Homo sapiens: one gene and its partners. The protein of the gene in region 1 interacts with the protein of each later gene in a biochemical or structural test. Each region holds a gene or a part of one and is shown in the gene's direction. Other genes may lie near its edges.

Region 1 (7,033 bases):
CTTGTCTTGAGCTCCTTGTTCTTGGTCCCTTCCTCCCATCATTAATTCTGGCACGATAAGCCATTTGTACTCAAGGGTCAGGACCAGTTATTTCTTCTCTCTCTGGTTGGGTAGTTTCTTTCCTCCTCTAGAAGCAGGGAGCCATACATCACTGGTCCTAGGGACAGAGGAAAAACATCCTATGCAGCCATGATAATTCAAAAACACCTCCTTACTCCCCTCCCTTGCGATACATCCCTGGTCCCAGGGACAGAGAGAAAGAACATCCTATGCTGCCATGGTAACTCAAAAACACTTCCTTATGCCCCTTGCAGTCCCTCCCTTATACTTGTCCCCATAAGAACATAAGAGTAAGCCGGGCATAGTGGCGCATGCCTGTAGTCCCAGCTACTCGGGAGGCTGAGGCGGGAGGATCACTTGAGCCCTGGAGTTCAAGACCTGCTTGGCAACATAGCGAGACCTCATCTTTACTAATAAAAAAAAAAGAATATGAAAATCAAGTTTTGTGGGTTCATGAAACCTGCCCTTCCCAATGACAGGAGAGGCTTTCTGTCCCCACACTTCTTAGGACAAAGAAGGTGATCCTCTTCTCCCTGCCTCACCTGGTCCAACTTGAGAGCTTTTGGGGATGAGAAGAGGGAAGATTCCTCCTGCCACCCCAGTCTTGGTCCTAAACTGTCACTAGGGGTGGTTGTAGCCTGGAGGTCAGTTGGATCCCTTGGGAAGAGAGGCGTCGTTGAGGGGGAGTCTAGATGGCGATTCTGGGGTTCTGACTACTTGGGCTTCCTCTTTGTCCTGATTCTCTTGTATCCCTACTTCCTTTAGGAGTCTTTTTGGCACTCTGGGGTCCAGGTGCTGGGTGGGTGGTGATGTCAGGGGTTCCCAGGCATGGCTGCCTTGCTGAGAGTCTGCTCTATGAAAAGGTTGGCCTGTAAGCATCCTGAGTTTGGAGACCCCACAGAGCTCTTTGAGAAGGGGCATGTGAACTGAGGTGGTGGAAAAAGCTGGGTGTGGCACGGTAGTTGGTGCCTGGGTTCCAACTCTGGGTCTTTCAAGGCTTTGCTGGATGAACCAGGGTAGGTTCTACCTATGCTCTCTGGGCCTCAGTTTCCTCACTGGCCAGGCAAAATGCTGGTGAGGTGTTGTTTAGCTTTGGGATTTTAGGGAACTCAGTCCAAAGTTCTCTGGACCTGGAGGTGGCAAAGAATGGTGGATGTCTTTTGAGGAGGAACTGGGTTTCTCCCCTCTCTTCCTGGCTCCTCTGTTCCCTCTCAGCCATCCAAGCTTGGTGGGCAGGACAAGCAGCCTGTTTTGTGTGAGGCTCAGGGTTGATGAACAGCCATTTTTTGTGGGCAGCCATGTTGTAATGAACAAGCTCGATGGGATTTCCTGTCAGGAGGCCTGTTGGATAGTGGTGTAGAGAGGTAGAGTTGTGTGTGGAGTTTGGGCTTTGGAGCAAGGCAAGCTTTGAGCCATCATCCCTCAATTCTCTCATCACCTCCAGACCTCAGCATCTCCTCCTTACCTGCTTTATAGCTTTAGGCAAACTACTTGCCCCCTCAGCTGCCCATTTTGCAAAAGTTTGTCCATGCCCAGGTGTGTCTGACCTTGCACACCTTGGACCTTGGCCGGTTCTTCCTCTTGCCCAGAATGGGCAGTTTGCCCCAGGGTCATCTTGGTTCTTCCTAGGAGCCTTTGTCCACTCCTAGTAACCTATCTTTGATAGCAAAGGCCCTTCATTTGGCATCTAGGAACCTGCTGATTTCTTGGGCTCTTCTTACCCCAACTGGAATTGGGTAGCTAGCTGGTGGGGAAGCAGGAAGGGGTCTCTGCCCAGGCAACGTGGATTTGAGTCCTGTTTCTGCAGTAAGCTTTTCTGTGGTCTTCAGGCAGTTCTCTTTTCTGGTTCTTGGTTTCTCCCTCCATGAAATGGGTAGTGTTGAGGAGGGAGGTTGGACTCATTGCTCTGAAGCAAGTTATAGTCTCCTCCCTGCTCCCACTCCCCTCACCCTTCATGAAAGTTTTAAGTGGGACCCCTTGGCCTTTGGGGATTGTGCTAGGACATTTCAAGCAGTGTTCAGCGTCCTTGGCTGGTGCTGAGCCCTTGGGTGTGTTTCTTTTAACAACTTTAATGAGATGTAATTCATGTACCATACTATTCACCTCTTTGAAGTGTACAGTTCAGTGGCTTTTAGTATATTCACAGATTTGTGCGTCCATCACATCACTACAGTCCATTTTAGAACATTTTCATCACCTTAAAGAGAAATCCAGCACTCTTTAGCTATGATCCCCCAATTTCCTCATCCCTTTCCAGCCTCTGGCAACCACTAATCTACTTTCTGGCTTGATTGATTTGTCTGTTCTGGATGTTTCATGTAAATGGAATAATAGAATATGCAGTTGTTTGTTACTTGGCTTTTTTCACTTAGCATAATATGTTCAAGGCTTATCCATGTTGTAGCATACATCAGTGCTTCATTCCTTTCTATTACTGAATAACAGGACCTTGGGTTTTTTTGTTTTTTGGTTTTTGTTTTTGTTTTTGTTTTTTTTTTAAGGTGGAGTCTTGCTCTGCTGCCCAGGCTGGAGTGCAGTGGCGCAATCTCAGGTCGCTGCAACCTCCGGCTTCCGGGTTCAAGTGATTCTCCTGCCTCAGCCTCCCAAGTAGCTGGGGCTACAGGCATCTGCCACCACACCCGGCTAATTTTTGTATATTTAGTAGAGATGGGGTTTCACCATGTTGGCAAAGCTGGTCTCCTGAACTCCTGACCTCAGGTGATCTGCCTGCCTTGGCCTCCCAAAGTGCTGGGATTACAGGTGTGAGTCACCGCACCCTGCCAATCTTAGAGGTTTTTAATCCCCCTGCCCTCAGTGGCCTAGCCAAATGTTGGGGCCTTGCTCTTCTCCCCTTCTGCCCTGGAGGGCTTGTGTTGGTCCTTAGAGAGTAGTGTGTCTATGTTCCTCGTTGGATGGGTTGCCTGTGTGTGTTTTTTTTTGAGATGGAGTCTCACTCTGTCCCCCAGGCTGGAGTGTAGTGGCGCGATCTTGGCTCACTGCAACCTCCACCTCCCAGGTTCACACCATTCTCCTGCCTCAGCCTCCCGAGTAGCTGGAACTACAGGTGCCTGCCACCTCGTCTGGCTAATATTTTTGTATTTTTAGTAGAGACAGGGATTCACTGTGTTAGCCAGGATGATCTCGATCTCCTGACTTCGTGATCCGCCCACCTCGGCCTCCCAAAGTGCTGGGATTACAGGCGTGAGCCACCACGCCTGGCCCCCTGTGTTTTGTCCATGGAGCCAGGCTAGTGTTCCTGGGTGCTTTGCTGGAGGGGGTGGTCTTGGCACCAGGGCTGCTGGGACAGAGCTGTGAGTCACAGAATGCTAAACACCTTTTGACCATAGGCTCTGGGAAGACATCTGTCCATGAACTGCCACTGCTGCTGCCATCTTTTGCCCCCCCACCCCACCCCCACTTCAGTGGCAGCTCATCCATCCATAGGCAGGGTCAGTAGTTTCCCAGGGTGAGAAGGGAGATTCCAGGCCCCTGCTGCCTTAATTCTAACCTCCCACCCTGGAGGATGGTAGGCAGGTGGACCTTGCAGAGCGGGATCCATGCCATATTGTCTCACACCTGTGAGGCACTAGGGAACAGACACCAAGGAGTGCTACCAAGGGGGGTGTGTTAGTTTCCTGTGGCTGTTGTGACAAATGTTACCACAGACTGGGTGGTTTAAAACAACAGAAGTTGGCCGGGTGCGGTGGCTCACCCCTGTAATCCCAGCACTTTGGGAGGCCGAGGCGGGTGGATCACGAGGTCAGGAGTTCAAGACCAGCCTGGCCAAGATAGTAAAACCCCATCTCTACTAAAAATATAAAAATTAGCTGGGTGTGGTGGTGGGTGCCTGTAATCCCAGCTACTCGGGAGGCTGAGGCAGAGAATTGCTTGAACCCAGGAGACGGATTGGAGGTTGCAGTGAGGTGGGGGTTGCAGTAAGCTGAGATTGCGCCACTGCACTCCAGCCTGGGTGACAGAGCGAGACTCCATCTCAAAAAAAAAAAAAAAAAAAAAAAGAGAGAGAGAAGTTTATTCTGTCACAATTCTGGAGGCCAGAAGTCCACAATCAGTTTCACTGCATCCAAATCAAAGTGTTGGCAGGGCCACACTCCTTCTGGAAGCTCTCAGGGAGAATTTAGACCTTCTCTAGCCTCTCGTGGCTGCCAACATTCCTTGGTTTATGACTGCATCATTCTAATCTCTGCCTCCATCTTCACCATCGCCTTCTCTGTATATGTGGTTTCCTTTTCTGTCTGTATCAAATTTCCCTCTGTCTCTCTTTTATAAGGACACTTGTGATTGCATTTAGGTCCTACCTGATACTCTAAGATAACCCCCCATCTCCAGATTTAATAATGTAAGTTAATTACATCTGCAAACACTTTTTTTCTTTTCTCTTCTCTTTTTTTTTTTTTTTTTGAGGTGGAATCTCACTCTGTCACCCAGGCGCAGTCTCGGCTCACCGCAACCTCCGCCTCCTGGGTTCAAGCTATTCTCCTGCCTCACCCTCCTGAGTAGCTGGGATTGCAGGCGCCCACCACCACACCTGGCTAATTTTTGTATTTTTAGTAGAGATGGGGTTTTGCCATGTTGGCCAGGCTGGTTTCAAACTCCTGACCTTAGTTGATCCACCCGCCTCGGCCTCCCAAAGTGCTGGGATTACAGGCATGAGCCACTGTGCCCGGGCTTTTCTTTTCTTTTCAGACAGTGCTGGCCTCTGTCACCCAGGCTGGAGTGCAGTGGCGTAATCTTGGCTCACTGCACCCTCCACTTCCTGGACTCAAGTGATCCTCCAGCCTCAGCCTCCTGAGTAGCTGGGACCACAGGTGCGAGCCACCATGCCCGGTTAATTTTTGGTGTTTATTTATTTGTTTTTGAGATGGAGTCTCGCTGTGTCACCCAGGCTGGAGTGCAGTGGTGCTATCTCGGCTCACTGCAACCTTCGCCTCCCAGGTTCCAGCGATTCTCCTGCCTCAGCCTCCTGAGTAGTTGGGATTACAGGCGCCTGCTACCATGACCAGCTAATTTTTGTATTTTTAGTAGAGATAGGGTTTCACCATGTTGGCCAGGCTGGTCTCGAACTCCTGACCTCAGGTGATCCACCCGCCTCGGCCTCCCAGAGTGCCGCGATTACAGGCGTGAATCACCGTACCTGGCCTGTATTTTTTGTAGAGATGAGATTTCACCATGTTGCCCAGGCTAGTCTTGAACTCTTGAGCTCAAAGCGATCTGCCTGCCTTAGCCTCCCAAAGTGCTGGGATTGCAGGCATGAGCCACGACGCCTGGCCCTACCTTTTTCATTATAAGGTAACATTTACAAGTTCCAGGGGGGTTAGGGTTTGATATCTTTGCGTGGCTATTAATCAGCCTACTAGAGAGGCTTTTTTCCCTCCTGGGGAAGGGAAGGGAACTCATTAAGTGGTCTCTTACTGGGCAAAGCCCTGTAATATTTGAGTCTGCCCAGCATCCCTATTATTGGGAGGCTTGGTATCCCCATTCACAGATTGGAAAACTGTGGCTCAGAGCAGTTCATCATCACATGGCTAATAATTGGTGGAGCTAGATTGGAACCTAAGTCAGTTGGGTTCCACAGCCTGCTCCAACTTCACTTGGGCCCTTAGACCACTAGGTTACAGAATCTTGCCTCAGCTCCTGGGATCCTCTGGTGTTAGGGAGCTTTACTCAGCCTTTTTGTGGAGGCTCAAAGATATGGAGGGATTTTCCCATAGGCTCAGCGATGAGTTTGCAAGGTTCACAATCTCCTCAGGCCAGGGCATTGTTGGAGCTTAAACTTATCTATGGCTGAGCTATCCCCTACCCCCCACCCCTACTAGCCCTTCCTGAGCAACATTTTCTCCCCAAAAGGAGAAAGAGAAGGGCCAGAGCCCAAACTCCTCAGGCTGCTGATGACAAAGCCAGTGGGTGGCTAGCAGTCCAGCCTCTAGATCCAAGCCTGGATGCCAGTTTGACTGCCCCAGGACCCAAACCCTGCAGTGCGAGGGGCCTATTCAGGTCTCTTTCATGTTTAGAGACAAACCAGGATATTCTGTGGATGGGCTGCAAGGTATGTCCTCCATGCTGTGGCTCGTGGGGGCCTTCCCTGTTGCCTCTACACTAGGCTTTGCTGGTATCCAAACTCCAGCTCCTTTCTCTTTCTGCCTTTGTTTTTTTGTTTTTTGTTTTGTTTTTGTTTTTGTTTTTGAGACATAGTCTTGCTCTGTTGCCCAGGCTGGCTGGGGTGCAATGGTGCCATCTCGGCTCACTGCAACCTCCACCTCCCGAGTTCAAGCGATTCTCCTGTCTCAGCCTCCCAAGTAACTGGGATTACAGGCACACGCCACCACGCCCTGCTAATTTTTTGTATTTTCAGTAGAGACAAGGCTTCGCCATGTCGGCCAGGCTGGTCTTAAACTCCTAACCTCAGATGATCCTTCCGCCTTGGCCTCCCAAAGTGCTGGGATTACAGGCGTGAGCCACCGTGTCTGGCCTCCTTTCTGCCTTTGTAAAGTGAGGGTAATGTTTCCTGCCACCTGGGCTGTGGTCAGGAAAATTAAACGAGGTCACCCTTTGCATCTGGCATGGGGCAGGTATTCAGTTAATATGAGTTCATCTTTCTTCCTGGTCCTCCCTGCTTACCTGCCTAGTACTACCCAGAACTTTAGCTCTACTGAATTCATTGCTGGGCTCCAGGCATTCCTGGTACTTCGTGGCAGAAGTGACTTCATTTCTCATCCAGTTAACAAGCATTTTTGGAGGTCTTGGTGTTTTAATCCTTTGGTCAGGTGGCACCTCCTCTCAGGTGCTAGCCTTAATGACTGTGTTTCTTTTTTTCTTTTTTTTTTTTTTCCTTGAGACAGAGTTTTGCTCTTATTGCCCAGGCTGGAGTGCAATGGTGCGATCTTGGCTCACCACAACCTCCGCCTCCCGGGTTCAAGCGATTCTCCTGCCTCAGCCTCCCGAGTAGCTGGGATTA
Region 2 (6,939 bases), on another chromosome or scaffold:
CAAAAAGGTAGCAAAGCCAAGATGATTATCAAAGACCAGAGAGGCAGTTTCCCAATAGGCTGTCTAGAGGAAGCAGACCAACTTTCAACCAGGAGAAAAAGTCTCAGTCCTAGGAAACTAGGAATGGGTGAATCGAGTTGAAAGCAGGATAAAAGCATAATGAAAAGACAAAGGAGATATTTGGAAGAAAGAGAAGCAAGGCAAACTATGGGTATGGTGTGATCTGTTTGGGGGCAATTCTAAAAAGATTAGATTTAAGCCAGGTATTCTATTTGCTCAGAACATTCTTGAAAGCTCAGCTTGGCTGGGCGTGGTGACTCAAGCCTGTAATCCCAGCACTTTGGGAGGCTGAAGAGGGTGGATCACCTGAGGTCAGGAGTTCGAGACCAGCCCGGACAACATGGTGAAACCCTGTCTCTACTAAAAATACAAAAAATTAGCCGGGTGTTGTGGCGGGCACCTGTAATCCTAGCCACCCAGGAGGCTGAGGCAAGAGAATTGCTTGAATCTGGGAGGCGGAGGTTGCAGTGAGCCAAGATTGCGCCACTGCACTCCAGCCTGGGCAACAAGGTTGAAACTCCGTCTCAAAAAAAAAAAAAAAAAAAAAAGAAAGCTCAGCTTGAGTGACTTTTCTTAATTCTCTTGGCTGGAATCACTTCCTCCTTCAACCTCCACATTACTCTTCTTCCATTTATCATATAATTTTTTTCTCTATTGGCTTTGAATAGTCTGTTCCTTCTAAATTATTAACTTCTAGATGGCAGCAGTGGTATAGTGGAAAGAACAATGGAATCCAAGTCAGAAGACCGGGGTTTCAGTATCAGCTTCAGTCCTTACCTCAGGTGTTTGAGCCCCAGTGTCCTCATCTAGATAACAGGGATATTATAATTTACCCTATAGTGTGATTCAAGTATTAAAAGGTATAAGGTGTAAAAGTTGAACATAGATGGGAGGCCGAGGTGGGTCGATCGCTTGAGCCCAGGAGATCAAGACCAGCCTGAGCAACATGGCAAAACCCCGCCTTTACAAAAAATACAAAAATTAGCCAGGCGTGGTAGCCTGTGCCTGTAGACCCAGCTACTCGGGAGGCCAGTGCAGGAGAATTGCTTGAGCCTGCTAGGTGGAGGTTGCAGTGAGCCGAGGCCATGTCACTGCACTCCAGCCTGGGTGATGGGAGTGAAATCCTGCCTCAAAAAAACAAAAACAAAAACAAAAACAAAAAAAAAAACTGGAACATAGCACCAGACAAGTAAATGTTTCCATTTGCTGAGCCTACTATGTATATGAACTGTCCTAGGTGTCTGACATACATTATCTTATTTAGATCTCACTGCAACTCTGTGTAGATAGATCTATTAGTATGGAATATTTAACAAATGAGGAAAAAAGATGCAATGATAGGTTAAATCTAACTAATTTTTTTTTAAGACAGATTCTCATTCTGTCGCCCAGGCTGGAGTGCAGTGGCACAATCTTGGCTCACTGCAACCTCCACCTCCCGGGTTCGAGCAAGCAATTCTCCTGCCTCAGCCTCTGGAGTAGCTGGGACTACAGCCACACCAACACTCCTGGCTAATTTTTGTATTTTTAGTAGAGACAGGGTTTCACCATGTTGGCCAGGCTGGTCTCAAACTCCTGACCTCAGGTGATCCACCCACCTCGGCCTCCCAAAGTGCTGGGATTATGGGCGTGAGCCAGTGCACCCGGCCAAATCTAACTAATCTAAATCCAAGTAAGGCCACGTAGTTAAGTAGCAGAAACAACTGAAATTTAGATCTGGGCTGGGCGCAGTGGCTCACGCCTGTAATCCCAACACTTTGGGAGGCCGAGGTGGGTGGATCACCTGAGGTCAGGAGTTCGAGACCAACCTGGCCAACATGGTGAAACCTTGTCTCTACTAAAAATACAAAAATTACCCAGGCATGGTGGCAGCGCCTGTAATCCCAGCTACTCGGGAGGCTGAGGCAGGAGAATCACTTGAACCCAGGAGGCGGAGGTGGCAGTGAGCCAAGATCGTGCCATTGCACTCCAGCCTGGGCGACAGAGCAAAGACTCCGTCTCAAAAAAAAAAAATTTTTTTTAGATCTGTTTGGCTTGAAATCTAGCAGTGTCTACTGGTCTACCTTCCTTCCTCAGGGCTCCCAGGGACATCTAATAGTGACCTTGAAATCACTTTTTAGTCTAAACTAATCTGGGCCAATGGTTGAGCTGGTAACCTACAAAAGTGTTCCATTATCTGCCTTGAGGGTACCAGGTCTGTCCTGATTTGTAAGTATTTTTTCATAAATTTTGCTCAGAAGAACTTCCTAAGCAAAACTGTGTGTGTGTGTGTGTAATTCATTAACAGACCACCTCTGTAGAAGGAATGTCATGTTCTCAGTTTTTGCCTTCGAAGAGGTACTTTATTTTTTAAAGGAGGTCATAGAAACCTTTGAGAAGAAAGTCATGAATTGGTTCCTTAGGGAAAAAAAAACAGACTTATTTGATTAAAAAAAATTTTTTTTTGAGATGGAGTCTCGTTCTGTTGCCCGGGCTGGAGTGCAGTGGCATGATCTCAGCTCACTGCAACTTGCCAGGTTCAAGCAAGTCTTCTGCCTCAGCTTCCTGAGTAGTGGGGTTTACAGGCGCGCACAGCCATGCCTGGCTAATTTTTGCATTTTTAGTAGAGATGGGGTTTCACCAAGTTGGCTAGGCTGGTCTCGAACTCCCAACCTCAGGTGATCCGACATCCTCGGCCTTCCAAAGTGCTGGGATTACAGGCGTGAGCCACTGTGCGCCGTGGCCAAAACTCTGAAAGTGTCTTATAGTAGAAACTCGGTATAAAAGATCCTATCTCGGCCAGGCGTGGTGGCTCAGGCCTGTAATCCCAGCACTTTGGGAGGCCGAGGCGGGTGGATCACCTGAGGTCAGGAGTTCGAGACCAGCCTGGCCAACATGGTGAAACCACATCTCTACTAAAAAAGAAATACAAAATTAGCCGGACGTGGTGACACATGCCTGTAATCCCAGCTACTCCATAGACTGAGACAGGAAAATCGCTTGAACCCGGGAGGCGGAGGTTGAGGTGAGCCGAGACCGCGCCATTGCACTCCAGCCTGGGCAACAAGAGCGAAACTCCGTCTCGGGGAAAAAAAAAAAAAAAATAATAATTTTCCGTTCTGATTCCACTGATCATAAATTGAACTCCTTTGTAGAACAGGTTTATCATCTTTCATTTAAAAGTAATAAAAAATCACGAATCATTTATATCAGGAAATTAGTGGAAATTTCCACATTTTGTCTTTGGGCATGTGATGGTGGTGAGGAAACTGGGGAGACCGAGGTAATAGAAGTTGCTGCAAAGCCAACTCCAGGATCCTACTATCTCCTTCTGGAAAGGCCCTTACATAATTTCCTTACTTTTCCAATAAAAGGCTGTATATGTCTTGCCCCTTAACTGATTTTACCAACTTCACCATAAATACAACTGCGGATGAAGGATGAGAAGCAACAAGAAACCCCTAAGGATCCGCCAAATAATTAGGGCTGCCCCAGGGGAATCCGAGCGAAAGAACACAAGAGCCCCTCTTCCTCCTCGCCTCCTCTGGGACACACACTTACCCTCCCTCCCGGCAGGTTAGCCCGCAGCCTCCTCCTTCCCTAACACGTGCTCTCCGGAACACTCACTCTGGAGACATCCCACCCCCGGCGGGGCTGGGCTCGGGAGCCGAACGGACCAATCGGCACGCGCCTTACAGCGTCGTGGCCCGACAACGTTGAGCAGCCCAATCGAGGGGGCCTTGCCGCCCGTTTCCCGGAGCCCCGCCTCTCGCCGCCGCGCCCCCGCCCGCCGGTCTCCTCCCTCCTCCTCCTCCCGTTTGCCCCTCCCCCGCCGCTCCGGAGCGGAGCCTGCGAGACGGAGAAACTGGGGCAGAAGTGAAGATGGCGGCGGCAGCTTCTCGCTAGTGACGCGCGGTGCGGGCTCATCTCCTTCCCCTCCTTCCTCACCTCCCCTAGTCCGGACCCCGTCCGCCGCCGGGACCAGACCGTCCCCGTAGCCCGCAGCCAGCAGCCGCCCCTCTCCTCCCCCGGCCGCCCCTCTCCCAACGCCCGTCTGCCGCTGGCCGGCGGCGCGCCCCTGGTCCCGGCCGCCTGCCTCGCACTCCGCGCTGTCGCCGGGGGAGCGGGTGGCGTGTGGATTCGCCCTCCTGCCCGCCCCTCCGGGCCGCGGACACACGCCCGGCAGGGAGGCGGCGGCGGCCCCTGCGTATTTGCTTCCCTCCATTTGGGGACTGGGAGGCGGCGGCGGCTGTGGGTTTTGGGGAGGGGTAGAGGGCTGGGGGGCGGGCGAGAGCGGGAGGGGGCCGCCCTCGAGTGGAGGACGAGAAGGAAAGCACCATGACGTCCATCCATTTCGTGGTTCACCCGCTGCCGGGCACCGAGGACCAGCTCAATGACAGGTAATAGGGCTGGCGGGTCGGCGGGCGCGGGGGGAGGGGCGCCCTTCCCTCCCTCCCCTCCCCCACGGGCCGTGCCGGGCGGGTGCGGGTGTTTACGCGCCGGCCGGCCAGCTGGGGTGGGGTGCGGGGGTCCTTACTGCCTCCTGCTAGGCTCCTTCCGGGGCAAACTTCTCATCCCGGGGGCAGGGGGCCGCGGGGGGAGCGCGGTGTAGACGGGACTCGCGGTGTAGACTGGAGAGCGCTCTGTAAACCCCCTTCCCCCTCCCGCAAGGAGCGGCGTTGAACTCGGCGGAGATGGGGGGGTGGTTTCTGGCTCCCGGGGGGCAGGCGGTAATTACTGCCCGGCCAAGGCCCGAGGAATCCATATTAGTCAAAGTTGAATTGAGACAGACAATGCGGATGGGGGATGGTGGAGGTAAAAAGAGAGGGAAGAGGAGAAGCGGGGCCAGGGGCCCCGGGGTGGGCTGGGCTGGGCTTGTCCCGGGCCCCCGGCAGCTGTGTCCGGTGGGGTGGTCTGGACCTGGGGATCCCGGGGTCGGGTTGGGGAGAGAAGCCGATTCCCGGCAGATTGCTGGGAGCGGGCGGGGGGTGGGGGGAAGGTGATAGTTGGGGGAGGGAGTGAGGGAGGAAGCGCCATGATTATTGTTATTATTATTAAATTTGAGCCCCTGCAGTGAGGTTTGCCTGCCCCGGGAGGGGATGGATTCAAGCGGGGGTGGGGAAGTGCATTGGATTCCCTTTACTCTCCTCCTGAAATGGTGCTGGCAGCTCCTGCTACTAGCCCCTGTGGTGCGAGCTTTTTTGTTTCCTTTTCTATTCTAATGATAGTGTTTTCCTGAGTTGTAATTTGACAGCTGAAAACCGTGCGTAGAGTGTCAAAGGAAAACTCTTACGTTTGCAGTTCGCAATGCTGCTTTTCTTAACACGCTGTAAATTTCTGGGTTGGGTTTGCTATGGGCGGAGGATGAATTATGATTTTATTTTATGTTTTGTCTTTTATAGGCTGTTTTGGTTTGGATTTCTCCTTTTCTTCCGCCACCGTTCCTTGCCAGTTTAGGATATTGAATTGCAGTGCCGCATGCTCTCAGGGAACTGAGATAAGGCAGGAAAAGTTCCTTCACTGTTGGAAAACAGACTCAGGAGGTTGAGGGAGGCCTCCATTAAAGCATGTCTTAGAATCTAAGACTCAGATCTAATGATGGGCTAAATGTTTACAGGATCACAAAGTGGAGCATTTTAAGTCTTCCTCTCTCCCAGTACTTCACTGCTCTCTACATTTCTTTTGCGTATAGAAGGCCATCTGGTCCCAAGTTTAGAAGTTACATAGAATTTTTGCTAAGTGACCGGGTGACTTAAGTTGCATGATGCCCTGTTTGTCATGCGCTTCCCAGAGGGAGGAAGAGGCCTAACTTGCTGCTGAGATACTGGCCTCTTGTGTCAGTGTATCTAACCGCCTCAAGTGGAGCAGACAGCTTTTAAATCCAGAGCTGGCGGTTTAGTTTCTGCACTTGGTTCGGATTTGCCTAATCTTTGCTGTAGCCATATTGTATTTAACATGTTTGGGAATCTTTTGAAATACTTACTGAAAATACTAACTACTCAGAGTTGTCACATAGTTCCTTTAAATTCTGAAATAACTTTTTAGTTATTTAACATTTTGTTATGTGGTTCTTAGCCTGACTTTACTTCATTAAAGATCTTTTGGAGACATTAACATAAAATTTTTTGGTAAAATTTAGAAACAGGCTAGTAGTGAGGATAGCTCTACGGTCATTAACAGAACCATGTTGGTAGTGCTTGTCTTGTTACTTAGAAAACCGCACCAGAGAGAAGAGAGGTAGGGCATGTTTTCTATATTAGTCCTAACTTTATGTACCAAGAAACCTGACTAGCTTACTCAGTTGGCTGTGCATGCCAAAACCTATTTTGCGGTTGTGTTGGGCACTTTGATTCATTTTTGAGCATTCCTTTTGCTTCAGCTATTTGAGAAATTTACAAGTAATGTATCTTTTTAAATGCTAACTCTTCTTTTTCCATTCCTAGTATAAACAATCAGCTTTGTTTGATTCTTCTATCATTATACAACATTAAAAATATTTAGATCATAGTGACTTTTAATTTCATGAAATTAGGAAAAAAGTAGACTTGAGTCATAACATGTGCATCAAGGTGGCAGATATTTGAAAAATAGAAAGGTGCCGTAGGTGAAATTATAAAGAGCTATATGGTTGTATCTAGTAGCGGTAAACATGTCTTGCCTTTTGAGATTTGTGAAGGCAGCATTTAAGATAGGCACATATCCTAAGTTTTGAAGTAGCTGATTTGTGGCAGGAGCTGTTCTGTGTTTCCCTTTCAAAAGGAGGGCTCCTTTTTGCATACCTACTTGTAATAGGATCAACCTGTCACTTGAGAAAAATCTGTTTCCAAAAGAGACTGGTTTTCTGGAACCTTTTAATTAACTAGAATAAGCGTATTTTCATCTAAAGATAAAAACTTTACC
Region 3 (3,797 bases), on another chromosome or scaffold:
AAGTGGCCTATGGAAATGAGCTTTAAGCCACATTCCATGAACCGAAGGGCCTCTGAGCTGGGAGTGGATAGTGGGCACAGCCAGCCCCAGCTCTCCCTCTCAGTTGAGCCAAAGCATCTGTGCTCATTTGTTTTTAGATTTCTTAAAGGATTTCATTTGAAAGAAAAAAGAAACAAGTCCATGAGACCACTGTCCTGTGAACGTGAACTACTTTCTATTTGGGTAGGTAGGAAGAAGTGAGGATAGTTGCAAAGTTATAATTTCATTCCCCTTCCCCACCCAGAAAAATAGAACTGAGAGTCTTAAAACATGGAATCTGGCTGTAGCTTGGCCACAGTTACCTATGTCTCTTTAGCATAGCCTCCTGGATCTCAGCTTTATCTCTAAGAAAATGATATAGATTAGTCACATGGTCCTTCTAATTGCCTGAAATCCCACTATAAATTTCTAGCACCTGTCACGCAATAGGTACTTAAGAAATGTTGGTGATGGTGTTTGAACTGAGGCTCCACTCTGATGAAACTGTAAAGCTCACCTTCCAGCCTGGTAGGTTGTCACCTGTGTAATATAAAGCTGGTTCTTTGAGGGCAAAAGGGGATTCTACTTGAATGTAGCTGCAGCCTTATGTACAGCAACTACCATAATGCAGTTTGTATACCGCAGGCCCCATGTGGAGACACATACTGGATGGGTTCTTTCTCGTATGTTACATGGGAATGCCGACAGCTGTGTTTTAATTGTGTTTGACCTATGTTTTCGTTGTAGGGAAGCAGAAATGAGAAACAGTATCTTAGCCCAAGTTCTGGATCAGTCGGCCCGGGCCAGGTGTAAGCATCTTTGATTTCATTTCCATAAAGTTAGCTTGAGTTAGTTGAATGGGGTGATTAGATACCATTATTGCTATCACTAGATGAAATATTTGCTTAGGCTGAAAACACTTGAGATGTGTAAGAAGTGTGAAGTTTATAAACCTAGAGAACTGTACTTTAATCCCTAGTAAAAGTACCAGGTCACTTCTCTTACCAAGATGTTCTCCAGGTGTGTATTAGGTAAGATTTATAGGAAACAACTCATAGGGCCAATCACAAAATGTTGCTGGTAGTTGACATTTTGTGTCAACTGGTGATGGGGACTGGGGATGGGGGACTTAGGGGCTTTTTATATGTATTGTCAGTTTTAGTGTATGTTCAGAGTTGTTCATCATAAAAACCAAAACCTGTAGAAAGAAAAAATGAGACAGTCAGAATGAACTGGTATTTTCTGTATTTTAACTGGAAGCCCAGTTTGAGTGTAGAAAAGGCGGCCACAGGTGGATCACCACCATTATGTGTAATAGATAAACCGCTTTCCAGAGGGCAGTCATATATTTTAAGAAACAGGAAGCATGGTGCTTAGAATCTGAGAACCCAACTTTAATCTTGGCTGGGCCACTACCCCCATGTGCCCATGTGGAGATTGGCATGGGTGAACTTCAGTTTTCTCATTTTTAAGAGGAGTAACAATACTGTCTTGCCCTACACTGAGGGACAAGCTTGTGAAGTGCTTTGGAAAGGTCAATGCATAGTTTTAAGGTATAACATAAGTGCATTTGATTTTAATGGATTTTTTGCATATGTATTTTTTCTTTTTAGTAAGTAACTTAGCACTTGTAAAGCCTGAAAAAACTAAAGCAGTAGAGAATTACCTTATACAGATGGCAAGATATGGACAACTAAGTGAGAAGGTAAGCTTAGACAGCCTTGAGGAACTTTACTGTTACCTGCTTTATCAAAACATGGCTTCAAAAGGTCAGCTGCATCTTCACTGGATTACAGAATTCTTGCTGACTCTCAGAAGAAATTGTTGGAGAGAATAGTCATACCTACTTTAAAAGAGAATAAATTGCCTTTCCTAAATTCCTCTGCTTCGCTCCTTTCCTGGCGTTGCTCTGGAACCTTGTTGGTGTCTGTGACCCAATGACTGTTAGGGTCAGCTAGCTTCAATTGCCCCTGCACTGGAAGCAAGGTTTGTCAGTAACACCAATTAAAATACTACCAGTGTAAGTAGAAGGTGTGTTTTGCAGATGAGAAGGTGCTAAGATGCCTTGCTTATGTTCTCTGTGTTGCTGTAATACCATGAGGGGTATGTTGTGGCAAACCTGGCCTTTGAGATCAAGACGAACCCCACCTGCCCTGAGAAGCCGTCTGCTACCACCACAGCCTACCCGAATTGGTCCTGTCCCCTAAACCCCTCACACTGAGAACTGCTTGTGTGGGAGAGAGCTGGTTGGGTTGATCTTTTCCGAGTGTGACTTACCTCCTTCAAGGGGATGTTTAAGCTTCTCGGGCAGAAGTGGTGTGTCTATTCCTGACACCAAACACCGTGGTATATGTGGTTGTCACACTCAGCTAGTGATGATAAAGGTGTTCTTAAATATGTTAGCTTTCAGTTTTCCTGAGGAAGCAATTTTATGGATACTTCCCCCTCCTTCTCAAGTGAGGAATAGCAGAGCAAATTTTATTTGGAACTTAAACCAATAGTTATAACCAATAGTTTCAACCTCCTGCCTCACCACTGCTTCCTTCCTGAGCTCTTTCCCCACACCTCAAAAAGAGTACAAAGTGATTCCATCTGCAGAGGTAAATTCTTTGTTTAAAAAAGTACTGTTTTTCTTATCTTTTCTGGTTCTCCTAGGTATCAGAACAAGGTTTAATAGAAATCCTTAAAAAAGTAAGCCAACAAACAGAAAAGACAACAACAGTGAAAGTAAGTGTCCCCAGATGCTTGTGGCAAATGAAAAGATGGATACTTTAAAGATTAATGTTGAGTATACATCTACCACACATATTTTTCAGCCCAGAGACATTTTCCTTTTGTCAAACACGTGAAAGTTTGGGGAGAAAGGCTGAATCTGTTGGGGGAGGGTTCTAATTTTTATAGGCTCTTGACTCCATTCCCACCCTTTTAGTTCACGCTAAGTTGCTTTAAAGACACAAATGTCTTGCTAAAATTGGTAGAAATCTTTTCTCGGAAAATCTGAGTTATGCTTTATTAGAAATGTTCTGACACTCATTTAATTTTCCTCCCAGTTCAACAGAAGAAAAGTAATGGACTCTGATGAAGATGACGATTATTGAACTACAAGTGCTCACAGACTAGAACTTAACGGAACAAGTCTAGGACAGAAGTTAAGATCTGATTATTTACTTTGTTTATTGTCTATATGCCTTTTAAAAAAATAAACTTGTTATGCAAAATAAAACATTTGGGTAAGTTGTTTTAGTATCATAGCCAAGTGGCCAGATCTGTGTTTTGAATTTTTCCCCTTCCTACCAAAAGCTTTTTTTATTTTTATTTTTGTTATTATACTTTAAGTTTTAGGGTACATGTGCACAATGTGCAGGTTAGTTACATATGTATACATGTGCCATGCTGGTGCGCTGCACCCACTAACTTGTCATCTAGCATTAGGTATATCTCCCAATGCTATCCCTCCCCCCTCCCCCCACCCCACAAGAGTCCCCAGAGTGTGATGTTCCCCTTCCTGTGTCCATGTGTTCTCATTGTTCAGTTCCCACCTATGAGTGAGAATATGCGGTGTTTGGTTTTTTGTTCTTGCGATAGTTTACTGAGAATGATGATTTCCAATTTCATCCATGTCCCTACAAAGGACATGAACTCATCATTTTTTATGGCTGCATAGTATTCCATGGTGTATATGTGCCACATTTTCTTAATCCAGTCTATCATTGTGGGACATTTGGGTTGGTTCCAAGTCTTCGCTATTGTGAATAGTGCCGCAATAAACATACATGTGC

Evidence for each region. Proteins that work in one complex are often made in the same cells at the same time.
Region 2: the proteins of OTUD5 (region 1) and UBR5 form a complex in vitro, tested with the Homo sapiens proteins (2 studies listed by BioGRID, with this or other methods).
Region 3: the proteins of OTUD5 (region 1) and PDCD5 form a complex in vitro, tested with the Homo sapiens proteins (one study listed by BioGRID).

Annotation. Positions count from the first base shown.
Region 1 is NC_000023.11:48,947,581-48,954,613, reverse strand, and holds part of OTUD5 (OTU domain-containing protein 5), read left to right. Parts: intron 1-7,033. UniProt on the Homo sapiens protein: Deubiquitinating enzyme that functions as a negative regulator of the innate immune system. Has peptidase activity towards 'Lys-48'- and 'Lys-63'-linked polyubiquitin chains. Can also cleave 'Lys-11'-linked ubiquitin chains (in vitro).
Region 2 is NC_000008.11:102,409,673-102,416,611, reverse strand, and holds the start of UBR5 (E3 ubiquitin-protein ligase UBR5), read left to right. Parts: upstream 1-3,911; 5' UTR 3,912-4,377; coding exon 4,378-4,439; intron 4,440-6,939. UniProt on the Homo sapiens protein: E3 ubiquitin-protein ligase involved in different protein quality control pathways in the cytoplasm and nucleus. Mainly acts as a ubiquitin chain elongator that extends pre-ubiquitinated substrates.
Region 3 is NC_000019.10:32,584,185-32,587,981, forward strand, and holds the end of PDCD5 (programmed cell death protein 5), read left to right. Parts: intron 1-765; coding exon 766-827; intron 828-1,631; coding exon 1,632-1,723; coding exon of another isoform or gene 1,724-1,855; exon of another isoform or gene 1,856-2,673; coding exon 2,674-2,745; intron 2,746-3,068; coding exon 3,069-3,116; 3' UTR 3,117-3,269; downstream 3,270-3,797. UniProt on the Homo sapiens protein: May function in the process of apoptosis.